Homo sapiens: one gene and its partners. The protein of the gene in region 6 purifies or fractionates together with the protein of the main gene of each other region. This does not show direct contact. Each region holds a gene or a part of one and is shown on either strand. Other genes may lie near its edges. The genes, in order: MCMBP, RDH13, UACA, CIZ1, DYRK2, TRIOBP and SKAP2.

What was found.
Region 1: the proteins of TRIOBP (region 6) and MCMBP purify together in Homo sapiens (affinity purification with mass spectrometry; one large-scale study listed by BioGRID and IntAct). This does not show direct contact.
Region 2: the proteins of TRIOBP (region 6) and RDH13 purify together in Homo sapiens (affinity purification with mass spectrometry; one large-scale study listed by BioGRID and IntAct). This does not show direct contact.
Region 3: the proteins of TRIOBP (region 6) and UACA purify together in Homo sapiens (affinity purification with mass spectrometry; one large-scale study listed by BioGRID and IntAct). This does not show direct contact.
Region 4: the proteins of TRIOBP (region 6) and CIZ1 purify together in Homo sapiens (affinity purification with mass spectrometry; one large-scale study listed by BioGRID and IntAct). This does not show direct contact.
Region 5: the proteins of TRIOBP (region 6) and DYRK2 purify together in Homo sapiens (affinity purification with western blotting; one study listed by BioGRID). This does not show direct contact.
Region 7: the proteins of TRIOBP (region 6) and SKAP2 purify together in Homo sapiens (affinity purification with mass spectrometry; one large-scale study listed by BioGRID and IntAct). This does not show direct contact.

Annotation. Positions count from the first base shown.
Region 1 is NC_000010.11:119,866,344-119,869,843, forward strand, and holds part of MCMBP (mini-chromosome maintenance complex-binding protein), read right to left. Parts: intron 1-3,500. UniProt on the Homo sapiens protein: Associated component of the MCM complex that acts as a regulator of DNA replication.
Region 2 is NC_000019.10:55,053,149-55,056,648, reverse strand, and holds part of RDH13 (retinol dehydrogenase 13 isoform 1 precursor), read left to right. Parts: intron 1-3,500. UniProt on the Homo sapiens protein: Retinol dehydrogenase with a clear preference for NADP. Oxidizes all-trans-retinol, but seems to reduce all-trans-retinal with much higher efficiency. Has no activity toward steroids.
Region 3 is NC_000015.10:70,659,059-70,662,558, forward strand, and holds part of UACA (uveal autoantigen with coiled-coil domains and ankyrin repeats), read right to left. Parts: intron 1,159-3,500; coding exon 1,093-1,158; intron 1-1,092. UniProt on the Homo sapiens protein: Regulates APAF1 expression and plays an important role in the regulation of stress-induced apoptosis. Promotes apoptosis by regulating three pathways, apoptosome up-regulation, LGALS3/galectin-3 down-regulation and NF-kappa-B inactivation.
Region 4 is NC_000009.12:128,171,073-128,174,572, forward strand, and holds part of CIZ1 (cip1-interacting zinc finger protein), read right to left. Parts: intron 1-3,500. UniProt on the Homo sapiens protein: May regulate the subcellular localization of CIP/WAF1.
Region 5 is NC_000012.12:67,651,745-67,655,244, reverse strand, and holds part of DYRK2 (dual specificity tyrosine-phosphorylation-regulated kinase 2), read right to left. Parts: intron 1-3,500. UniProt on the Homo sapiens protein: Serine/threonine-protein kinase involved in the regulation of the mitotic cell cycle, cell proliferation, apoptosis, organization of the cytoskeleton and neurite outgrowth. Functions in part via its role in ubiquitin-dependent proteasomal protein degradation.
Region 6 is NC_000022.11:37,703,548-37,707,047, reverse strand, and holds part of TRIOBP (TRIO and F-actin-binding protein), read right to left. Parts: intron 1-3,500.
Region 7 is NC_000007.14:26,739,091-26,742,590, forward strand, and holds part of SKAP2 (src kinase-associated phosphoprotein 2), read right to left. Parts: intron 3,282-3,500; exon of another isoform or gene 3,252-3,281; intron 875-3,251; coding exon 797-874; intron 1-796. UniProt on the Homo sapiens protein: May be involved in B-cell and macrophage adhesion processes. In B-cells, may act by coupling the B-cell receptor (BCR) to integrin activation. May play a role in src signaling pathway.

The DNA of each region.
Region 1 (3,500 bases), on a different chromosome or scaffold from region 6:
GGCCGGGCGTGGTGGCTCATGCCTGTAATCCCAACACTTTGGGAGGCCGAGGCGTGTGGATCACCTGAGATCAGGAGTTCAAGAGCAGCCTGACCAACATGGTAAAACTCCGTCTCTACTAAAAATACAAAAATTAGCCAGGAATGGTGGTGCATGCTTGTGATCCCAGCTACTTGGGAGGCTGAGGCAAGAGAATCGCTTGAACCCGGTAAGCAGAGGTTGCAGTGAGCCAAGTTTGCACCACTGCACTCCAGCCTGGGCAACAGAGTGAGACTCCGTCTCAAAAAAAAGAGAAAAAGATAGTGGTGGTGATGGTTGCACAACATCATTATGAATACAGTAAAAAAAATTCAATTGTACATTTTAAAATGTTAAATTTTGTTATGTGAATTTTATTTCAAAGAAAAAAAATTTTTTTGGACCAGCCTGAGCAACATAGTGAAACACCATCTCTACGAAAATACAAAAAGTTAGCTGGGTGTGGTGGCAGGCGCCTGTAGTCCCAACTACTCGGGAGGCTGAGGCAGTAGAACTGCTTGAACCTGGGAGGTAGAGGTTGCAGTGAGCAGAGATCGTGCCACTGCACTCTAGCCTGGGTGACAGAGCGAGACTCTGTCTCAAAGAAAAAAACCTCTAAAAGCAAAAACAGTTAAAAGCGGTTACTTCAGGCAGGGCACGGTGGCTCATGCCTCTAATCCCAGCACTTTGGGAGGCCGAGGGTGGTGGATCACGAGGGCAGAGGAGGTCGAGACCATCCTGGCCAACACGGTGAAGCCCCGACTCTACTAAAAATGCAAAAATTAGCCAGGTGTGGTGGTGGTCGCCTGTAGTCCCAGCTACTCAAGAGGCTGAGGCATGAGAATCGCTTGAACCTGGGAGGGAGAGGTTGCAGTGAGCCGAAATCGCACCACTGCCCTCCAGCCTGGGCGACAGAGCGAGACTCCATCTCAAAAAAAAAAAAAAAAAAAAAAAAAAAAAGTGGTTACTTCAATGGAGGGAGCACGTACTTTCACTCAGTTCATACCATCATGTTGATTTTTTTTAAAACCATGTGTAAGTTATTATAACTTAAAAACTCCTACGTATGCCATCTGCCATGGCTGCCGGAGCTATTCTTCTTCTTTGAGAACGCCCCCAATGTTGAGGTGTGGATAACAGTCACGATTGTCCTACCTAACTCTGTGCCATGGCCACAGATGACTGATCCCTGAGTGAATGGATTCCTGACTCCATGTTGTGCCAATCAGATTTTCTATGCCTGAAAATAAAGATGCTAGCTAGCGTGGGTTGGAACCGAGAACAAGTAAATTTGGGAGACATGGAGTAGAGAAAGAGAAAGTGTGCAGAGATTAATGTATCCCAAGAGAAGAAATACTGAGTTGCTTGGATTCCTGCTAGCTTTCCAGTTCCTGATTCCACTCAGTCTCTTCGAATACCCAACCACTTCCCCTGTTCTTGGGTTTTATAGCCTTAATATAAATTAACTTTTTTCAGTGGCCTACCAAGGACAGAGTGGTAGAAGAGGTCCAAGCTGGGTACAGACAATAAGGGCACAGATTGTCTGTTTAGATTCATGGTGATAATAAAAAGCAGACCAACTAACTTTTAGTTCATTTTATTATTGCTTTAAATTCTCTAAAATGCTAGTGATAAAATAGTCTGCTCTGCCCCTCTTCACCCAACCCTGCTCTTTTTTGCATGAGCTAGTCTAGTTCTGTTAGATACAACCAAAGAAGCTTAAATATAACGAGAATAATGATCTTGGTCTAACCAATAGTTGAAGGGAAAACAGCTAAAGAGGCTGGGCGCAGCAGCTCACACCTGAGATCTCAGCACTCTGGGAGGCCAAGTGGGGGCAGATCACTTGAGGCCAGGAGTTCAAGACCAGCCTGGCCAACATGGCAAAACCCTGTCTCTATTAAAAATAGAAAAATTAGCCAGGCATGGTGGTGCACACTTTTAATCCCAGCTACTCGAGAGGCTGAGGCATGAGAATGGCTTGAACCCAGAAGGCGGAGGTTGCAGTGAGCCGAGATCACGCCACTGCACTCCACCCTGGGCAACAGAGCAAGACACTGACTCCAGAAAAAAAGAAAAGAAAAATTTTGAGATTTGTGATCTCACTAGCCATTTCAATTAACAACATTTCTGATTAATCAGTCTTTTCACTGCTTTTGTTCAACAAGTGTCCACTGAGCACTTTCAATGTACAAGGCAAATTCTAAGAAATTAGGATACAGTGGTGAATAATGCAGATACAGGGGCCCTGAATTCGCGGGGTCAAAATCCAGCAAAGGAACTTCCGAAACAAGGAATTTCAACAATGCACTTTACACACTATTTTTCAAAGACATATATAATAGGATCCTGCAGTAACATGGAGCAGGGGTACCCTACTTTGGTACCTAACTTAAGTTCCCAAAGGAAAAGTAAGACTTAGCCAGAAAAGTGGACATGGGATGGGAGGGGGAATCAGGCACAAGAAATCAGCAGATGCAAAAAGGCCTAGACACAGGTTCAAAATTAAAGAACTGAAAAAAGGTTCAGTGCGGCTGGGATGGAGTATGAGGAGGGGGTACGCAGTGATAAAGTCTCAGAGCAAGGCAAGGGTGGAGCCAACAAGGGCCTCATAAACCACTTTAAAAGTCCTGGATCAGATAGTAAGGGTAACAAGAAGTCACTGAAGGACTTGGTTCCAGTATGGCAGGTGGAAGAGAAGCAAGACTGGAGGCAAGAAACCAGTTAGAGGGCTGTTCCAGCGTCCAGGAAAGAGACTACGATGGCTTTAATTTTGACAGTAGCATTGGAGATGAGGGTCTGGGTCGGGCGCGGTGGCTCACGCCTATAATCCCAGCACTTTGAGAGGCCGAGGCAGGCAGATCACCTGTTCGAGACCAGCCTTGCTAACATGGTGAAATCCTGTCTCTACTAAAAATACAAAAATTAGCGGCTCGGTGTGGTGGCTCACGCCTACAATCCCAGCACTTTGGGAGGCCAAGGTGGGCGGATCACTAGGTCAGGAGTTCAAGACCAGCCTGGCCAACATGGTGAAACCCTGTCTTTACTAAAAATACAAAAATTAGCTGGGCATGGTGGCATGCACCTGTAATCCCAGCTACTCAGGGGGCTGAGGCAGGAGAATCACTTGAACCCAAGAGGCAGAGGCTGCAGTGAGCCAAGATTGTAACACTGCGCCCTAGCCTGAGTGACAGAGCAAGACTCAGTCTCAAAAAAAAAAAAATTAGCTGGGCATGGTGGCAGGCACTTGTAATCCCAGCTACTCCAGAGGCTGAGGCAGAATTGCTTGAACCTGGGAGGAGGAGGTTGCAGTGAGCCGAGATCACACTGTTGCACTCCAGCCTGGGTGACAAGAACGAAACTCCATCTCAAAAACAAAAAAAGCAAAAACAAAAACAAAACCCCTAGAACGGATAAGATACAGTGACCAAATTCAGATCCTGAAAGAGAGTCAGTGAGTAGCTGGTTATCCAAAAAAACTA
Region 2 (3,500 bases), on a different chromosome or scaffold from region 6:
GAGAACGCTGGCCATGTGGGATGAGGACTGGGATAGGCGGCTCCCAGGGCCAGGCTCTGAGAAGTGAATGAAGCAAGCAAACTTTAGAGCAGAGTTTTGGCAAACTATGAGTTAGGGGCCAAGTCCAGTTGCTGCCTTTTTTTGTACAGCCTGCAAGCAACGACTTTATTTATTTATTACTACTGTTATTTTGAGAGGGAGTCTCACTCTGTCGGCCAGGCTGAGTGCAATGGCGCGATCTCGGCTCACTGTAACCTCTGCCTCCTGGGTTCAAGCGCGGACCTCAGCCTCCTGAGTAGCTGGGATTAAGATGCCTGCTACCATACCCTGCTAATTTTTGTATTTTTAGTAGAGACGGGGTTTCACCACGTTGGCCAGGCTGGTCTGGAACTCCTGACCTCAGGTGATTCTCCTGCCTCAGCCTCCCAGAGTGCTGGGATTACAGGCGTGGGCCACTGCGCCCGGCTGACTTTGTTTTGTTTGTTTGTTTTGAGACAGATGGGGTCTCGCTCTGTTGCCCAGGCTGGAGTGCAGTGGTGTGATCTTGCCTCACTGCAACCTCCGTCTCCCGATTTCAAATGATTCTCCTGCTTCAGCCTCCTGAGTAGCTGGGATTACAGGCACCCGCCACCGTGCCTGGCTAATTTTTTGTGTTTTAGGTAGAGACAGGGTTTCACCATGTTGGTCAGGCTGGTCTCGAACTCCTGACCTCAGGTGATCTGCTTCCCTTGGCCTCCCAAAGTGCTGGGATTACAGGTGTGAGCCACCGTGCCCTACCTGAATAATTAGTTTGTTTGAGACAGGATCCATCTCTGTCACCCAGGCTAGAGTGCAGTGGTGCAGTCATGGCTCACTGCAGTCTCAACCTGCTGGGCTCAAGGGATCCTCCCACTTCAGCCTCCCAAGTAGCTGGGAGTACAGGCATACGCCACCACACACAGCTAATTATTGTTTTATTGTTTTGTTTTGTTTTTAGAGCTGGGGTTTCACCATGTTGCTCAGGCTGGTCTCCAACTCCTGGGCTCAAGTGATCCACCCAGGTCAGCTTCCCACAGTGCTGGGATTACAGGCGTGAGCCACCGCACCTGACCTTATTAAGCATTTATTGATCAAGTGCCTTCCCCACCATGGTTAAAGAAATATGTGTTTGTTATGGGACATTTATAAAATACTGCAATGTAAAGAAGACAGAACTGGCTGGGCACAGTGGCTCACGCCTGTTAATCCCAGCACTTTGGGAGGCTGAGGCAGGTGGATCCCTTGAGGTCAGGAGTTCGAGACCAGCCTGGCCAACATGGTGAAACCCTGTCTCTACTAAAAATACAAAAATTAGCCAGGCGTGGTGGTGCACACCTGTAATCTCAGCTACTCAGGGTGCTGAGGCAGGAGAATTGCTTGAACCCAGGAGGCGGAGGTTGCAGTGAGCTGAGATTGTGCCAGTGCACTCCAGCCTGGGTGACAGAGTGAGACTCTGTCTCAATAAAAAAGAAGACAGAACTAAACAACTTTGATCTGCACCAGCCCCAGGAGAATCACTTTTATGGATCTTTCTAGTCTTGTTTATAATAGGTTTGTGTGTGTATTTATATATTTTTATGTAAAACTGGGACCATCCTCTAGCTTTTCTATTCTTGTTCATCTTTAAATAGACTCAAGAATACACTAAAATTATTTATTGTTTAGTTGACATGTATACTTGTATATATTATGTACAGCATGATGTACATTGTATACATTGTAGAATGGCTAAATCAAGCTAATTAACATATGCATTACCTCAAATACTTACCTGTTTTTGTGGTGACCACATTTAAAATCTCTTCTCTTAGGATTGCTTGAGCTCAGGAGTTAGAGACCAGCCTAGGAAGCATAGTGAGACCTTGTGTGTACCAAAGATTAAAAAAAAAAAAAAATTAGCCGGGCATCCTGGCATGTGCCTACAGTCCCAGCTACTCAGGAGGCTGAGGCAAGAGGATCACTTGAGCCCGAGAGTTCAAGGCTGCAGTGAGCCGTATTTGTGCCACTGCACTCTAACCTGGATGACAGAGCAAGACCTTTTTTTTGAGATGGAGTCTTGCTCTGTCACCCAGGCTGGAGTGCAATGATGCGATCTTGGCTCACTGCAGCCTCCGCCTCCTGGGTTCAAGCGATTCTCCTGCCTCAGCCTCCCAAGACTATAGGCGGGTGCCACCATGCCCGGCTAATTTTTGTATTTTTAGTAGAGACGGGGTTTCACTATGTTGGCCAGGCTGGTCTCGAATTCCTGACCTTGTGATCCGCCTGCCTCAGCCTCCCAAAGTGCTGGGATTACAGGCATGAGCCACCATGCCCAGCTGCTTTGTTTCTTTTCTAGTCTGGCACTGAAAGGGCCAAAGCTTTCTTCTTCAGAGTCAATGTGCCCCGCTCAGTAAACGGGTACTCAGGAAATGAACAAGGAATGGGGGAGTTGTGGGACCTCATTTATTTAGCAGACGTGATCTCAGACCTGACCAGGTGCTGGAGGTGTGAGATGAACCAGAGCTGTCCTTGTGCCACTCACAGCCCTAGGGAGGCAGGTGCAGGTGCACATTCGTTGGTTCATTCATTCATTCATACTGAGCCCCTGCTGTGCCCTTGGGGATCAAGAAAGAGCCGGCACTGTTGTCGGGTAGGTGAGAGGCACTACGGTGAGATCACAAAGAACAGTGAGAGGGCAATGCCTCAGAGTCTCAGAGGTGGATGAACATTTATTAAGCACCTGCTGTGTACCAGGTACAGCACTGTCACCTTCATGCACACTGTCCCAGGCAATCCCACCCAGGGCGCCTCTGATCCTGTCTCTGGCTTGTGGACACAGGTGTCCGGAGCACTGAGGTCCCTGAGACAGTGAGGACCCCGGCTGGACACACCTGGGCAGGTGATGCCTCCTCTCTTAGCCACACGTTCCTCTTCCGGGAAATGGAATAATTCCTTCTATTTTCTGGGATTCTCTAGAGGGGTTTTTTTTTTTTTCTGAGACGGTATCTTGCTTTGTCGCCCAGGCTGGAGGACAGTGGCACATCTCGGCTCACTCCAAGCTCCGCCTCCCGGGTTCATGCCATTCTCCTGCCTCAGCCTCCCGAGTGGCGGGGGACTACAGGCGCCTGCCACCACGCCCGGCTAATTTTTTATATTTTTTACTAGAGACGGGGTTTCACCGTGTTAGCCAGGATGGTCTCGATCTCCTGACCTCATGATCCAGCCACCTCGGCCTCCCAAAGTGCTGGGATTACAGGCATGAGCCACCACGCCCAGCCTCTCTAGAGGATTAAGTAAAGCTGTGTCTGTGACTTTTTTAGCAAATCAAGTACCAGCTTCTTGGTGTTTTCCTAAGATCAACAGCCAGGAATAAAGACAGCAGTGGATTTAAAAATAGTGAAGATCGTCCATTTTATGTGGTGTGTATTCTACCACACTGGGGCAGGCCAGGTGCAGCGGTTCACGCCTGTCATCCCGGCACTTTGGGAGACAGAAGTTTTGGG
Region 3 (3,500 bases), on a different chromosome or scaffold from region 6:
TCTCTAATACAGATTTTCTGCTATTTCCCCACTTGAACTTCCTATTCACTGTCCCTCAATAATCTTCTCTAATAATTGCAATAAACTTTAAGATTCTAGTTTATCTCTGATTTGCTCAAAAGAGAGTAGCTAAGATCCCTTGTTCTATCATATCATTCATTCTTTTTCATTAGTTTCCCCTCCATTTCCTATAGAAGAGGCAGGTCTATTGATTTTAAGAATTTGATATCATAAAGTATCTTTCTTTTTATTATTTTATCTAGTTCTCTTTTTAAAATTGTTCTTTTTTTGAAGCTTTCTCTCAACATCCATCTTTCCCTTCTTCATTTTTTGTTTGTTTTTTTTTTTTTTTTTTTTTTTTTTTGCTTGTTTTTACAGTGTGGCCTAACATACTTCAAATCCAAATAATTCCCAGGATCTCTGTCATTCTAAAATTTGTTTCTTTTAGTACATTTTCTTCCTGAAAAAAAATCTATTCTGAGAATTTTGAAGATGCTGCTCACGGGGTTTCTACAGGAAATTAAGCATAGTATCCTTTATATGTTAGTAATTTCTTAGTATGATTTTAACAATAACTTTCTCAGTACACCCCTAAAAAAGGGAATTCATACTGTTATTCCTTAATTAATCCTTGGCTTTACCAAGCCAAGTTAAGGCTTGGTAAAACAGATCATTTTTAATTACTACAATCCTATACACATAACACCCTGCTTGTCACTTTTGTACTTTTCTAGTATTCAAAGCCATTCCCACTCTCCTCTTAGATGACAGCCACACGTGGATGTCAAGGCATTATCTCCAGCTAGCAACACCATTAACGTGTGCTACCATCACATGTTACCAAACTGTCTATAAACTGAGTGACAAGCAGATGGAGACGACACTAAATTTAAGATGTTGTGTTGCCATATAGCTTTGTAAATTTTTCTGGGAGATCCACAAACAATGATTAAAAGAAACATAATTATTTTTAAATAAGCATAGGGGGTGCAGCTACTTTAAACATCAATTACTTTCACATAAATTTATTTGAAAATAAAAAATTATTATCTCTAAAGCAATATTCTTTCCAAAGGAGAAGTAGTTCTTTACCTGTGCAGCACTAAGAAGGTGTGTCCGATAAATTGCAATTACTTCTTGGTGCTGTCTGTCAGCATCCTAGAAATGTGGAAAGATGGACAGATGTGACTATCAGCGTTCACATTTCCAAACTTTGGACAATGCTCAGGCTTCATGCTACAAAACTATTATTATTATTAAGGCGATCCTGCTACTTCTAACAACAAACTACCTTGGACCTACCAGATGCAGAATTTCAAAACGTAACAATATAAACTTCTGTAAAGAATGTGTGGCTAATGACAGTAATGCTACTTTCCCTAAGCAACATCAAATTATTGCTTTAGTTCATATCTAGTGCCATGAACTTCTGAAGACACTTATCACATGTCTGGATTATTGCAAACGCTTCCCATCCTGTCTTACTATCTCCACACTATATTCCTTACCATGCCTCTGAGACTAAGGTACCTATTTCCTCACATCACTTTTGGCTCAAAAACCTTGAGTGACACTTCTTTACATACATGAGAGAATCCAAATTCATCAGTTTGGTTCTCAATGACTTCCACAGTTTGGCTTCAAACATTAACTTTCAAATACAGCAGTCCCCTCTTATTGGCAGTTTTGCGATGAGCAGTTTCACTTTCTCTATTTCTGTTGCCCATGGTATAATACAATATTTTGAGATATAGAGAGAGACCACATTCACATAACTTTTATTACAACATATTGTTATAATTGTTCTATTTTATTATGTTGTTATTAATCTCTTACTGTGCCCAATTTATAAATTACTCTTTATCACAGGTATGTATATCTGGGGGGAAAACATAGCTTATATAGGGTTCATTCAGCAGGTCCTATCCATGGTTTCAGGCATCCACTGGGGATCTTGGAACATACCCTCAGTGGATAAGAGAGGGACTACTCTACAGGCAGGGCTTTTACTGCCCTCTGGCCATGCCACTTGTATTCCATCTCCACGCTTCTTTTACACTATTTTCTTTAGATGGAAGAGCCTCTACTTTCCTTTCACCTACCAAAATAGCATCTACGTTACAAGTTCAAGCCAGGTACTCCCTTCTTTAAAAACTAGCTTCTACCACACCACTAATCTTTCCTTCCTGGAAACCCCTATCACTTAGAATCTGCATTCTCAGTTCTACATTTGACATCTCTCATCTTGTGATTTTTACTTTTTATGAATCTGTATTTTGCCTCTCTAACTACCCAGAACTCCTTGGGGACAGGAATGGCATACTTTCTTTATCCCACTTAGCACAGGGTCATGAACATAATAAACAATAAACAAATATTTCCAATTATTAAAGGGACACTATACTCTTTGGATAAGATCCAAATCCACAATTTGCCATCCTTAATCTGTAGGCCTACAGTGTTAAAAAATAAACACTAAAAAAGAAACAAAACAAAAAACCTTTCTTCTATTAAAAAATAACTCAAACAATTCTATGAAATAGGGAAACATCAGCAACAATTTACATGTGACTGGGCCGTTTTACTTAGCATTTCAATGTGTATTAGTGCATAATTAAAAGCATAGTCCCAGATACTCAGGAAGCTGAGGCAGTAGGATCACTTGAGCCCAGGAGATCAGCCTATAGCAAGACCCCATTGGAGACAAGCCTAAGCCACATAGAAGACCCCATCTTTTGACAAAATTCAACAACTTTTCATGCTAAAAACTCTCAATAAATTAGGTATTGATGGGACGTATCTCAAAATAATAAGAGCTATCTATGACAAACCCACAGCCAATATCATACTGAATGGGCAAAAACTGGAAGCATTCCCTTTGAAAACTGGCACAAGACAGGGATGCCCTCTCTCGCCACTCCTATTCAACATAGTATTGGAAGTTCTGGCCAGGGCAATCAGGCAGGAGAAGGAAATAAAAGGTATTCAATTAGGAAAAGAGGAAGTCAAATTGTCCCTGTTTGCAGATGACATCATTGTATATCTAGAAAACCCCATCATCTCAGCCCAAAATCTTCTTAAGCTGATAAGCAACTTGAGCAAAGTCTCAGGGTACAAAATCAATGTGCAAAAATCACAAGCATTCTTATACACCAATAACAGACAAACAGAGAGCCAAATCATGAGTGAACTCCCATTCACGATTGCTTCAAAGAGAATAAAATACCTAGGAATCCAACTTACAAGAGATGTGAAGGACCTCTTCATGGCAAACTACAAACCACTGCTCAATGAAATAAAAGAGGATACAAACAAATGGGAGAACATTCCATGCTCATGGGTAGGAAGAATCAATGTCATGAAAATGGCTATACTGCCCAAGGTAATTTATAGATTCAATGCCATCCCCATCAAGCTACCAATGACTTTCTTCACAGAATTGGAAAAAACTACTTTAAAGTTCATATGGAACCAAAAAAGAGCCTGCATCGCCAAGTCAA
Region 4 (3,500 bases), on a different chromosome or scaffold from region 6:
CCATGACTGCCACTGCACTCCAGCTGGGGCAACACAAGACGCTGTCTCAAAAATAAATAATAAATAAATAAAAAGGGGGCCAGTCGCAGTGGCTCATGCCTATAATCCCAGCACTTTGGGAGGCTGAGGCAGGAGGATCGCTTGAGCCTAGAAGTCCAAGACCAGCCTAGGCAACATAGTGAGATCTTGTCTCTATATAAAATAAAATTAGTCAGGCATGGTGGTGTGCACCTATAGTCCTAGTTACTTGGAAAGTTGAGGTGGGAGAATTCCTTGAGCCCAGGAGGTTAAGGTTGCAGTGAGCCGAGATCACCATTGCCCTCCAGCCTGGGTGACAGAGAGAGACCCGGTCTCAAAAAATAAAATAAAATAGGGCCGGGCACGGTGGCTCACGCCTGTAATCCCAGCACTTTGGGAGGCCAAGGCAGGCACATCATAAGGTCAAGAGTTCAAGACCAGCCTGACCAACATGGTGAAACCCCATCTCTACTAAGAATACAAAAAAAAAAAAAAAATTAGCCGGGTGTGGTGGCACGCGCCTGTAATCCCAGCTACTCGGGAGGCTGAGGCAGGAGAATTGCTTGAACCCAGGAGGCGGAGGTTGCAGTGAGCCAAGATCGCGCCACTGCACTCTAGCCTGGGCAAAAGAGCAAGACTCCGTCTCAGAAAATAAATAAATAAATAAATAAAATAATACTTATTTTACAAGGGGAGAGCAACTATTTAATCTTGGGTTGGGAAAGATCATTGCAACATATAACATCAAAGCCAGAAATCATAAAGGAAAAAACTGATAGATCCGATTGCATAAAAATTTAAAACTTCTACATGTTGAAAGATATAAGAAAATTAAAAAGCAAACAAATGTCAATGACAAGGGCTGTGCTATCACTGGCCAGAGTGTATCCTTTATGTAGGCAGCTTCTTAAACCAAGGCTGGGCATACCGCTGGTTCACGCCTGTAATCCCAGCACTTTGGGAGGAGGGTTCCTTGAGCTCAGGAGTTCTGAGGCTGCATTGAGCTGTGATCACACCACTACGCTCCAGCCTGGGTGACAGAGTGAGACACTGTCTCAAAAAAAAAAAAAAAAAAAAAAAAAAAAAAGAAAAAAGAAAAGCCAAATACATGTAAAACCCTGGCTGGGCATGGTGGCTCACGCCTGTAATCCCAGCACTTTGGGAGGCCAAGGCAGGCGGATCACTGAGGTCAGGAGTTCAAGACCAGTCTGGCCAACATGGTGAAACCCTGTCTCTACTAAAAATACAAAAAAATTATCCAGGCGTTGTGGCAGGCACCTGTAATCCCAGCTACTTAGGAGGCTGAGGCGGGAGAATTGCTTGAACTGGGAGACGGAGGTTGCAGTGAGCCAAGATTGCGCCACTGCACTCCAGCCTGGGCAACGGAGCGAGACTCCCTCTCAAAAAAAAACCAAAAAAAGTGTCTCACTCAGCGAAAATAAGGACTCTCTATAAAATATGCAAATACACAAGTTTTCATAAATTTTAGGGGACACATGTCCACTGATAAAGCCCTGTAAGAGCTCTGCTGGGGAGGGCTGCTTAGAGACAGAAAGTGTTCGTGTTGTCATGTAGCATGATTCCGATTTTTATTTTTAAAGATTGTATAAATCCAGAAAGGATCACAAGAAGAACTAGGTCAAAATGTAAACAGTGTTTATCTCTGGGTAATGGGATTATGGGTGATTTTTATCTTCTCATGTGTCTGTGTCCTTGTATTTTCAAAACGTTATATAATGAGCGAATTATTTTTAAAATCAGAAAAAAAAATTTTTTTGTAGTCAAAAAAGGCACATCAGCCACACAGTGAGAGTACCAGGTTTTAGATTTTAGGATTTAGGGACATTTACTGTCCTCAGTAAAATCTTCTTAATACTGCTGCAAGCAACAAAATCAGACTTTAAAGCAGCTTGCTCCAGGCTGGAGTGCAGTGGCATGATCAAGGCTTACTGCAGCCTCTACCTCCTGGGCTCGAGCAATCCTCCCACCTCAGCCTCCTAAGTAGCCAGGACTACAAGTGCATGCCACCAGGCCTGGCTAATTTCTTTTTTTTTTTTTTTTTTTTTTTTTTTGAGACGGAGTCTCGCTCTGTCGCCCAGGCTGGAGTGCAGTGGCGCGATCTTGGCTTACTGCAAGCTCCGCCTCCTGGGTTCAGGCCATTCTCCTGCCTCAGCCTCCCAAGTAGCTGGGACTACAGGCGCCTGCCACCACGCCCGGCTAATTTTTTGTATTTTTTAGTAGAGACGGGGTTTCACCGTGTTAGCCATGATGGTCTCGATCTCCTGACCTCATGATCCACCCGCCTCAGCCTCCCAAAGTGCTGGGATTACAGGCGTGAGCTACCGCGCCCGGCCGGCTAATTTTTTTATAGTTTACAGAGACACAGGTCTCATGACGGGCTGGTCTTGAACTCCTAAACTCAAGCAATCCCCCCACCTCAGCCTCCCAAAGTGCTGGGATTATAGGTGTGAGCCACCATGCCAGCCTGGCTCTATTTTTCAATGTGCATTTTGATCTCTGTGAGAGAAAAACACAACAAATGAAGAAAGGGGGTGGGGAGAGAACATGGTCATCAAACAGGCAGACACCTTGTGCCAGTGTCACGTCTGAGGCTGCCCAGAAACGGCCAACGCGGGCCGGGCATGGTGGCTTGCACCTGTAATCCCAGCACTTTGGGAGGCCAAGGCGGGCAGATCACAAGGTCAGGAGATCAAGACCATCCTGGCTAACACAGAGAAACCCTGTCTCTACTAAAAATACAAAAAATTAGCCGGGCCTAGTGGTAGGCGCCTGTAGTCCCAGCTACTCGGGAGGCGGAGGCAGGAGAATGGCGTGAACCCAGGAGGCGGAGCTTGCAGTGAGCCGAGATCGCGCCACTGCACTCCAGCCTGGGTGACAGAGCGAGACTCCATCTCAAAAACAAAACAAAAAAACAAAAAAAAAAAACAAAGAAATAGCTAAGGTAGGCAAGGGCTTAGTTCACAGCACCTGCCCTGGGGGCTTTGAGGAGGGAGGAGACGGGCACCCCCACCAGCTAGGGTATTGGGATCCAGCCTTCAGCCCCATTCCTGGGAACACCCCCCTGCCTTCCATGGGGAAATGTATTTCCATGTGGTTTGGGTAGAGCTGGCCTGCCTAGGCCTAGCCAGTCAGAACACCTTATCCCTGGCCAGGGGATTGCTTCAGAAACGTGCACGTGACCACAATCAGATTAACCAGCATTTCCACTAGAAACTGTTCTGCTACCGCAGACACAGGTGACTGCCCTTCCTTGGAAGTCACTGTGCAGGGAGGCTGGGGCTGTGGGTACCTGGTGCCCACTGTAGTGAGAGATGGAGCCTCTCTAAGAAATGGTATCCCCTGGGTCCAGCTGTATCTCTTATATTCCCACTAACCTAAGCCAGAAACATTGTTCCTTTTTGCTCAAGCTAATTTCTGTCTTATAGAAATTAGAATTTTTTTCACTTACAACCGCGAAGAAC
Region 5 (3,500 bases), on a different chromosome or scaffold from region 6:
TGCTATAAAAAGCATAAAGCTCTTCATTAGGACAAAATTAACCTTGGGGCTTTAGAGATTTCTAAAAACACAGCAAAGTAAAACCAAGCCTCAGAAATTTACTTCAAGCAATTTTTGTGTTTCGCATAATTTAATACATGATCACAAATGTTTTAGTAACTAAAACTAACGAGACTGACAAGAAACGACCATCTTCTATATCTCCAACTGCCTTCTCTTGGTCTCCTTTGCAGCATCAACTACTACCTAACCTTAGGTGGATTCAAGAGTTCCCCAGGGTTCAAATCTCGATTCTCTTGGCTTCTTACTCCCATAACCCCCTGCAACTGATCCTGAACACAGCCAGGGCTTCAGCAACTGCCCATGGCCTGATGTTTGCGCATTTGTTCCCTGAGCTCAGACCTTCCAAGGTGCTATCTCCTGAGTGGAAGACACACATATCCAACTATCGATCAGCTCCCTCTCCCATAAGCAACTCAAACTTAACTCATGATTTTTCTAACAAACCAGTTTCCCACTTCCATAATCCTCCATTTTTGATAAAAAGAAGGCTTCCCCTCCATGTGTCACTCAGGCTATCCACCTGCGAATGAATCCTCAGCACTGTGTGCCTGGAAAATCTCAACACCTCCCTCACCTTCCCAAGTCACCAAGAAGATGCATCATTACTATCCCAGGCCCTTTCCATCAACACTGCCTCATCTCACTCTCCTGATGTCTTTCACTGGGACAACTGAGGCAGCATCGTAACATGCCCCCTTGCTTCTAAGTCTAGAATTCCTCAAATCTCTTCTCCATAGTGCTTCTAGAGTCTGATTTAAAAGTCTCAACCTGAGACCACTCTTGCTTTTGCCCAAGGCCTGTGGCTGTAACCTATTTCCATAGCTAATGCAAGAACTTACCAGTAAGAACACAAGGCTCTAAAATGTAGAGGCTAAATGATCGGAGTCCTTCCATTCTCATCAACTACTGTCACTCTTCTCTCCAAGAGAACAAAGCTAGATAGCCCAGGACCCAAAAAACACCACACACTTTTACACTCCTCTGCTTTTAGTGAGGTCAGGTTTCATAATGGTAGATTTTCAGTTAGACACACATTAAATGATCCAGCTCCACCATTTACTAAATGTGTGACCCAGGGCAACTTATTTCATCTCTGTTAACCTCAGTGCCCTTGTCTGCAAAAAGAAGGTAACAAAGTTACCTCATTAGGGCTTTTAGGGGGATTAAATAAGGTAATATGTGTAAAGTGCTTAGTAGTCAGTCAATGAGAGCATTATTATTGTCCTTTCCAGATATTTCTTGTAATCTCCTTTCTCATACCTAGGTGATTCACCCTTTTACTTATTTCTCTTTATTGCAATTGTTTTAACATCAGATGTACTCATCTGGCTGTGAGCAATTCCAGGGCTGGGTCCCCTCTTATGTTTCCAAGTCCTCATTAACATAAACCCAGGCATATAGTAAGCCCTCAATAAATATCTTTGGGATGGAAGAACACATGCCAATAGATCCTCCTTGTTAACTCTTGCCTCTCTTGGAGTTGTTCCTGAGAACTACATTGTGTACCTTCATAAGGAAACATGAAGTCAAGGCCCAGGGAATTAAGAAACGTCCCTGGTGACCTAAGTCACAAGACGTTAGGCTTGCAGTGGATCCGCACAGACTTGGAGGCCAAGGACCTCCAAGCATAAAGTACCTGTAGCAGACACATCAATCAAACCATGTATAAAACACTTGCAACAAACACATCAACCAAACACCTAAAAGCAACACATGCAATCTTAAAAGCTTTCCAGATGTTAGAGATTCATTTGAGAAGCTCTAGCAAAAGAAGACTTTGAATCTCAAACATTGCAGGACTCTAAAATCACAATCAAGCTCAAAAGCACAATTAACTGACTTATAAAAAATGGGGCAGAGAGCAGGGTGGGGGTGCTGAGGGACTAGAAATGCCAGAACATTTCCAGAATACGTATGTCAAGACTACATCATAAACTTAAGGATACTAAAAACCTCTCCCTCCAGCTCAGCCTCTTGAAGTCTGAGATCATGGCTTATTCCGATATGCCAATGTATAGCACAGTGTGTGTCACATTTAAAAATACATACTGAGGCCGGGCACAGGGGCTCAATCCTGTAATCCCAGCACTTTGGGAGGCTGAGGCAGGTGGATCATTTGAGGTCAGGAGTTCATAACCAACCTGGCCAACATGGTGAAACCCCATCTCTACTAAAAATACAAAAATTAGCCAGGCATGGTGGCGGGTGCCTGTAATCCCAGCTACTTGGGTGGCTAAGGCAAGAGAATCGCTTGAACCCCGGAGGCGGAGGTTGCAGTGAGCCGAGATGGAGCCACTGCACTCCAGCCTGGGCAACAGAGTGAGACTCCGTCTCAAAAAAACAAAACAAAACAAAACAAAAAATAAAAACATAATACAATTGTTAAAATAGCTACAATTTATGGGTTCGAATTGAGAGACCTGCAAAGGCTTCTTTGATCATCAAGTACTTTGGTATTAAATATTATATAAAAACAATAGTCTAACCAGTTTGGTAGTTTTCATTTCTTCCAATAAGAAAATGGCAAACAGCAGATATTCCACTGTGATAATAGTCTTGGGCGTTTAAAAACTTTTCTGAAGTCATCTTAGAAATGCTGTATAGTATTATGGTAATAGAATTGAGTCCAAAAAGACTGGAATTTTAGCTCCTCCTCAAACATTCTGACAGTCTGTGTGGCCCTGTCAGAAAGAAAAATGTCTACTTTTTCTTCTTCAAAATACTGCCATTTTTTAAAATGTGTATTTCAATTTGAATTATTTTATAAAGGTAAAACTGATAACTGGAGTGTTTTACATAGTAAAACAGTTACAAAAGTTATACATATTTTAATATTTTTGAATTTAAAAATACTTCTATTAATAACTACCAATTAACATTAATAGAAAAATAATAGGAAGTAAGACAGTGATTGGGCACACTTCTCTCTCTCACACAAACAGAAATAACTAAAGTGTAAAACAACTTATACATGGAGATATAAAACAAAAGGGCAATGGTCTAGATAAATTCCAAAGTTTATAATCTTTATAATCATATATTTAACCTGCCTACTATATCACCTGTAAGAGAAAATGTGGGCAAGCTCCTATGACAAGATCATTTTTATCTCCTTAATGCCCTCCCGCCCCCCATTCATTCTAGAAGTTCTTCCTAGGTGTAATTACTCTGGAAATAATAACTAAAAATTTATAAAAATCTGACAGACATATGGGAATATGGATCTACAAAGGTTCTTGCATTTATAATGAGGCTAGTACAATTTCCTAGAATTAGCAGTCTCCATCAGTATATTAAAACTAGATGCAGGAGGATGTAGGCTTTCACTCTGGCCTTGATATGAACTGGCTGGGGAATCTTGATGAAACCAGTTACCTTGTCTGAGTCTGTTTCCTCATCTATAAATTGAAAGAATAGAACCAGATAAACTCTGTGGT
Region 6 (3,500 bases):
GATCCACCCGCCTCGGCCTCCCAAAGTGCTGGGATTACAGGCGTGAGCCACCGCGCCCGGCCCAGTGTCAGTTTTTTACTATCACATCTGGTATACACAGGGAGCTGCTACCTGCCCAGAGTTGGGTCCCAGGGCCTGGCTCGGAGACACAACAGTCACCCCTCATGCATTTGCCAAAGGAGAGTTTCACAGCCTTGATCATCATCAGAGCAACTGGAAGCTCAAGAAAGTGGAGGATTTGATGTCGTGCCCCTCTCTGATCTTTTTTTTTTTTTTTTAAGATAGTCTTGCTGTGGCAGTGGCATGATCACAGTGCACTGCAGCCTCAATCTCCTGGGCTCAAACAATCCTCCTGCCTCAGCCTCCCAAGTAGCTGGGACTGCAGGCATGCACCACTACACCCAGTTCATTTTTTGTTTTGTAGAGATGGGATCTCACTTTGTTAACTAGGCTGGTCTTAAACTCCTGGTTTCAAGCCATCCTTTAGCCTCAGCCTCCTAAAGTGCTGTGATCACAGGCGGGAGCCATTGTGCCTGGCCCCCTCTCTTGAAACCATCTCTGGTCTTGGCTCCTGGGGAGGAGGGGCACACTGTGGGGTTTGCCTCCTAGCCTCTGGCCTTCTTGGCTGTCTCTGCTGATTCCCTGGCCTCCACCCAGGCCTGTTCTCATCTCATTCCACACTTTCTTCCACAGATGATAGGCTCATCCGTGAGCAAGACTTTGGTCAGTGACAGATCCTGAAGACTCGCAGGCCTCCATCTCCTGTGATGGTCTGGCTCTGAGCTCCAGCCCCACCAATTCACTAACTTCCCCCTCATCTCCACTGTATCCTGCCGACACCCCACACCATGCCCCAGACAACTCCAAACAGACCTCCCAACCCAAGTACCCTGCCTGAAGAAATTACAGGAGTCAGCCATGGGTTTCTCCCCTCCCTCACCCCCAAATCCTGTAGACGTGCCTGCTCAATTAGTTCGGAAATGTGTCCATTTGCCTCCATCTCAAAGCCCCAATCATCTCTGGCACCGATGAGTACGTGCACCTTTTCCTGGCGGGTCACCTGATTCACTCTCACCACCCTGCCCTCCATTCTCTCTGCCCAGCAATCAGAGTGACTGTGAAAAATGCAAATCAGAGCACGTCACTCCCTTATTTGAAATCTTCCGTGGCTTGGCCGGGCGAGGTGGCTCACACTTGTAATCTCAGCACTTTGGGAGGCCAAGGAGGGCAGATTGCTTGAGGCCAGGAGTTCAAGACCAGCCTGAGCGGCATGGTGAAACCCCATCTCTACTAAAAATACAAAAATTAACTGGGTTTGGTAGTACATGCCTGTAGTCTCAGCTACCTGGGAGGCTGAGGCAGGAGAATCGCTTGAACCTGGGAGGCAGAGGTTGCAGTGAGCCGAGATCACGCCTCTGCACTCCAGCCTGTGCGACAGAGCGAGACTCCATCTCAAAAAAAAACAAAAACAAAACAGAAAAAAACCTCAGAATCCTAAGTCCTCAACATGTCCACAAAGCCGCACAAGGCCAGTGAGACCAGGCCTCCCCCCATTCTCCATCCTTGTCCTATAGCTCCTCTGTGCCCCCCTCTTGCCTGTCCTCTCCAGCCCGATGTGCAGCCTCCTTTCTGCCTCAGGGCCTTTGCATATTCTTTGTTTGTTTGTTTTGTTTTGAGAGGATTCTCGCTCTGTTGCCCAGGCTGGAGTACAGTGGTGCAATCTTGGCTCACTGCAACCTCTGCCTCCTGGGTTCAAGAGATTCTCCTGCCTCAGCCTCCTAAGTACCTGGGATTACAGGCACCCACCACCACATGTAGCTAATTTGTGTATTTTTAATAGAGATGGGGTTTCACCATGTTGGCCAGGGTGGTCTTGAACTCCTGACCTCAGGTGATCCACCCGTCTCGGCCTCGTAAAGTGCTGAGATTACAGGCATGAACCACTGCACCTGACCTGTTTGTTTGTTTTGTTTTTGAGACAAGGTCTCATTCTGTTGCCCAGGCTGGAGTGCATTGGCATGCTCATGGCTCACTGCAACCTTGAACTCCTGGGATCCAGTAATCCTCCCACATCAGCCTTCTGACTAGCTGGGACTACAGGTGTGCACCATCCTGCCTGGCTAATTTTTTTTTTTTTTTTTTTGGTAGAAATGGGGTCTCACTGTGCTGCCCAGGCTGGTCTCAAACTCCTGAGTTCAAGTGATCTTCCTGCTTCGGTGCCTCAATCCAAGCACTTCCTCCCAAAGTGCTGGGATTACAGGCGTGAGCTGCCGTGCCAGGCTGGCCTTTGCACATTCTCCTTCCTTCCTCTCCTCTTCCTGCAATTTCACTAATGCTAATGCCTGCACAGCCTTTACTAAGCAGCTGAAATGTCATTTTTTTTTTTTTGGAGAAACTTTCCCTAATGCCCTATCCTTTACCTTCATGCCACTTACTGTTCCTTTATACATTTATCACAACCAAGATTAAATAATCATGTGCATTTCTCTTGCTAGAATATAAGCCCCATGAAGACAAGCCAGGGATGTGTCCCTCTCTCCTCCTCTCCTCCTCTCTCTCCCCCTCCCCCTTCCCCTCCCCCTTCCCCTCCTTCTCCCTGTTTTCTGTACTGTTCTGTTCTGTTCTGTTCTGTTCTGTTCTGTTCTGTTCTGTTCTGTTCTGTTCTGAGTCAGGGTCCAACTCTGTCACCCAGGCTGAAATACAGTAATGCGATCACGGCTCACTGAAGCCCCCGCCTCCCAGTCTCAGGTGATTCTCCCACCTCAGCCTCCTGAGTAACTGAGACTATAGCCGCATCCCACTACGCCCAGCTAATTTTTTAAATTTTTTGTAGAGATGGGGTTTTGCCATGTTGCCAGGATGGTCTCAAACTCCAAGTGATCCACCCACCTTGGCCTCCCAAAGTGCTGGGATTACAGGAGTGAGTCACTGTGCCTGGCTGTGCCTTTCTGATTTATCATGATTTCCCCATCATCTAGCATAATGCCTGGCACATTTTAAGCACCTATTCAGTACGTATGAATTTGTGAGCTGACCCACGGTCTCGGGTGGGAAATGGTGGGATTGAGACTAGAACTCAGACGAGCCTGAATCCACGGCTCTCCTGTTCCATTCTTGCCATCTTCCCAACCACTGGAAGAAAGTCATTTGCATGAAAGATGGACTCCCAGGCATCTGTTCCCTGAACCTGAACTTGCAGGTGAGCACAAGAGAGCTATTATTGGAGGTATCAAGACTGGTAGAAGCTGGGCGCGGTGGCTCATGCCTGTAATCCCAGCACTTTGGGAGGTCGAGGTGGGCGAATAACGAGGTCAGGAAGATCGAGGCCATCCTGGCTAACATGGTGAAACCCTGTCTCTACTAAAAAGACAAAAAATTAGCTGGGCGTGGTGCCGGGTGCCTGTTGTCCCAGCTACTCATGAGGCTGAGGCAGGAGAATGGCATAAACCTGGGAGGCCGAGCTTGCAGTGAGCCCAGATCGCACCACTGTACTCCAGCCT
Region 7 (3,500 bases), on a different chromosome or scaffold from region 6:
AGCATGGCTAACAAAGTTTTCTGACAGGGACAGTCAAAAAGGTATCTGACTATACAGTCTTGAGATAATTGATCCATCTGGGTCTCATTTTCTCATCTGTTATAAAAAGAAGGGGAGGAGCTAACCTAGATTATTTCTGTTATCTCTTTCAGTTTTAAAATTCAGCTAAGAAAGCTAAGAAAAGCAAAATGAAATATAAATAGAAAGGCCTAAAGGGACTACAAGAGAGATAAGCAGAATGGTAATGAAAAGACTGTCTGCTTTTCATTTCTCATATTATAAAACCACCTCCATATTTCATTTCCATTAAATATTGGTGTTGAAAGAGTGAGACCATATGGTCAACTCCCAATTATCATAGCCAATGGAGAGGAACACTGAAATGAATAATAGACAATGGCAGACAAAACTCCAGGCTTGATCTGAACCATGGTGCATGCCAGTTTGGGCATAGGAGAACCTGCTGCTCAGCCCATTGAGATACTGGTGAGAAATCCCACCTTTGAGAATACAGTCATGGCCTGCAGCTTTCCTTTGAGAGGCAGGAAACAGCTCCTGAATCATTTACAAATAACCAAGGTTGACAACTAAAAACCTAACCTAATGTTTTCTTATTAAAAATTATTTAAAGCTAAGAGCTATATTTTGTGGTTTGGATAATGTCATCCAGATTTTCTTACAATCTTTAAACTCTTTAATCACCTAAAACGAATACTGCCTCCACATGTATACTACAAACATGTTCTATCTAAGGATGAAATTATTTTTACATTTTTCATTAGAACCTTCAGTTTACCTTTTCTGCGTTTTTCAAGGTAGCCAGCCTTTAGAACAAAAGGAAGGTCTTGTGCTGCAATTGGAGGAAACTGGGCTCCTATGAGAAGTTGGGGAGAGAAAAAAAAAAGCAGTGGGTAATCCATTTCAGAATAAACAAGTGCCAGATCTCATTAGATTCAGTGTGCTTTTAATTACTGAAATTGTTTAAATCTAAGTCTATTAGCTTTGTTTCAGATCCATTCCCTAGATTAATCCCCTCTATTCCTCCTAAAAGTCTCAAAAGTAAAAAAAAAAAAAAAAAAAAAAAAGTTCTGTACTCCTATATGTTATTATAGCCTCCCAAAATACAGGACTGAGAAACTATTATAAATAAATGCAATAAATCCCTGAAAGAGAGGTTAAGAATTTCAAATAAATCATAGCTTCGTTATATTTATATTGAATTAACTCTTTAAAAATTTCAATACATATTGACTCTTTCCTGCATAATCCCTATTCCTACCAAGTAAAACATAAAATGCTTTTCCGAATCAAATGCTGAAACTTGTTTCTCTGAGCCCACAGCAAATATTCTCTGTGTTTGTATTCAGAGAAATGTTATGGACATTCCACTGAGTGAGTATGCTTTAGGTTTTTATAGGGCATTTAAGAGTCTAAAACTAGACAGATCTGATAAAACTATTATAAACAAATACTGGATCCCTAAAAAAAGTTTTTAAATCAAGCAAAAGTTAAGTTGATTAGAAATTGTATATTCACGGTCATGGATTATAGGTTACTCAATTTTACAAGTGTTCAATATTTTTATAAACTTCATTAGAAATATAATAGTTATCTGCCGGGCGCAGTGGCTCACGCTTGTAATCCCAGCACTTTTGGAGGCCGAGGCGGGTGGATCACTTGAGGACAGGAGTTCGAGACCAGCCTGGCCAACACAGTGAAACCTGGTCTCTACTAAAACTACAAAAGAAATTAGCCAGGCATGGTGGCGGGTGCCTGTAATCCCAGCTACTTGGGAGCTGACGCAGGAGAATCACTCGAACCCAGGAGGCAGAGGTTGCAGTGAGCCAAGATCACGCCATTGCAATCCAGCCTGGGAAAAAAAAGAGAAAAAAACGAAAACAGAAAAGAAAAGAAATATAATAGTTATCCTCAGCATTTTACTAGAACTCTAGCAAGTGAAAACAACCAATCAAAAGAAAGTTTGTATGGAATACATCCAGTGGAAATAGTTTCAGTACAACTTAGGATAGAAAATGTGTTTGAGTACAAACATGTAATTAGAATGAATAAGATCTAGTATTTGATAGCACAACAGAGTGACTATAGTCAACAATAATTTATTGTACATTTAAAAATAACTAAGTGGCCGGGTGCAATGGCTCATGCCTACAATCCCAGCACTTTGGGAGGCTAAGGAAGGAGGGTCGCTTGAGCCCAGGAGTTTGACACCAGCTTGGGTAACACAGTGAGACCCCCATCTCTACGAAAAATTTAAAAATAACTGGGTGTAGTGGTATACGCGCCTGCAGTCCCAGCCAGTGGAGGAGGAGGGTAGAGGTGGGGGGAAGGGGGTCTGAGGTGGGAGGATCCCCCAAGAGGTCAAGGCTGCAGTGAGCCATGATTGTGCCACTGCGCTCCAGCCTGGGTAATAGAGTGAGACCCTGTCTCTAAATAAATAAATAAATAAATAAATAAATAAATAAATAAATTAATAAAATGAAATAACTAAACAAATATAATTGGATTCTTTGTAACAGAGAAAGAATAAATGGTTGAGGTGATGGATACCTCATTTATCCTGATGTGATTATCATGCATTGTATGCCTGTATCAAAACATACAATATGCCCATAAATTTGCCTATTGTGTACCCACAAAAATTAAAAATTAAAAAAAAGAATGGGTTTGATAGGAAGTTTATTATTTACAAACTCATCACCTAATTTTACCAGTTTTTTTTTTTAATACCATGGGGATCACAGTAGTGATAAAGTCATGGATATTTTTTCTTAAGAAATAAAGCTTAAAATTAGAGCACTAATTTCAGCTCCTTGGTGGATCAACTTCACCCAGTAAACACCACACAGTATCATTAAAACATATTTAAAATAGAGCCCTGATTTTGAAATGTATATGAAATTTTAGGGAAAGTCAGTGTACATATTTTAATAGCTGTTCAATAAATGTATCCAGTTTTTTTCAAAATAAACTTGGTACATATAAAGGTATAAATTATTTATTATAGGATTTTGTACATAAAACAAAAATTACAAACAGAAATCTTATCTCTGTAAACAAGTCCTGGTGAACCACTAATCTAAAGTGGATAATTGTGGAATGATCTGGTCTCATTAAGGGGTAGTCCCACAACCCTCTCACTTCCATTGGGCATAATAAATGCTCTTTACATAAGGAATGGATGCTCACAAAATCTTAAGAAAAGTTAAATTATTCTGAAAAGAAATGGGTACCTTTAGCATAGCTTTCAACTCTAAAATGTTACTGGTCAAAAAGGAGACAGAGAGAGATGGGAAGAAGGGAGAGGGGAGAGGAAGTGGGGGAAAAGGAAAAGGAGAAGGGAAATTAGAATTTACTAGCGTTCAATATACACATAGCCTGAGTCTTTTGCTTTAAGAAAAGTGTTGACTAAATTTCCACCTGATACATCACAATAAAATTTGATGTCATAAGCAATACTTGTTCTGAATTCTAAATTCATG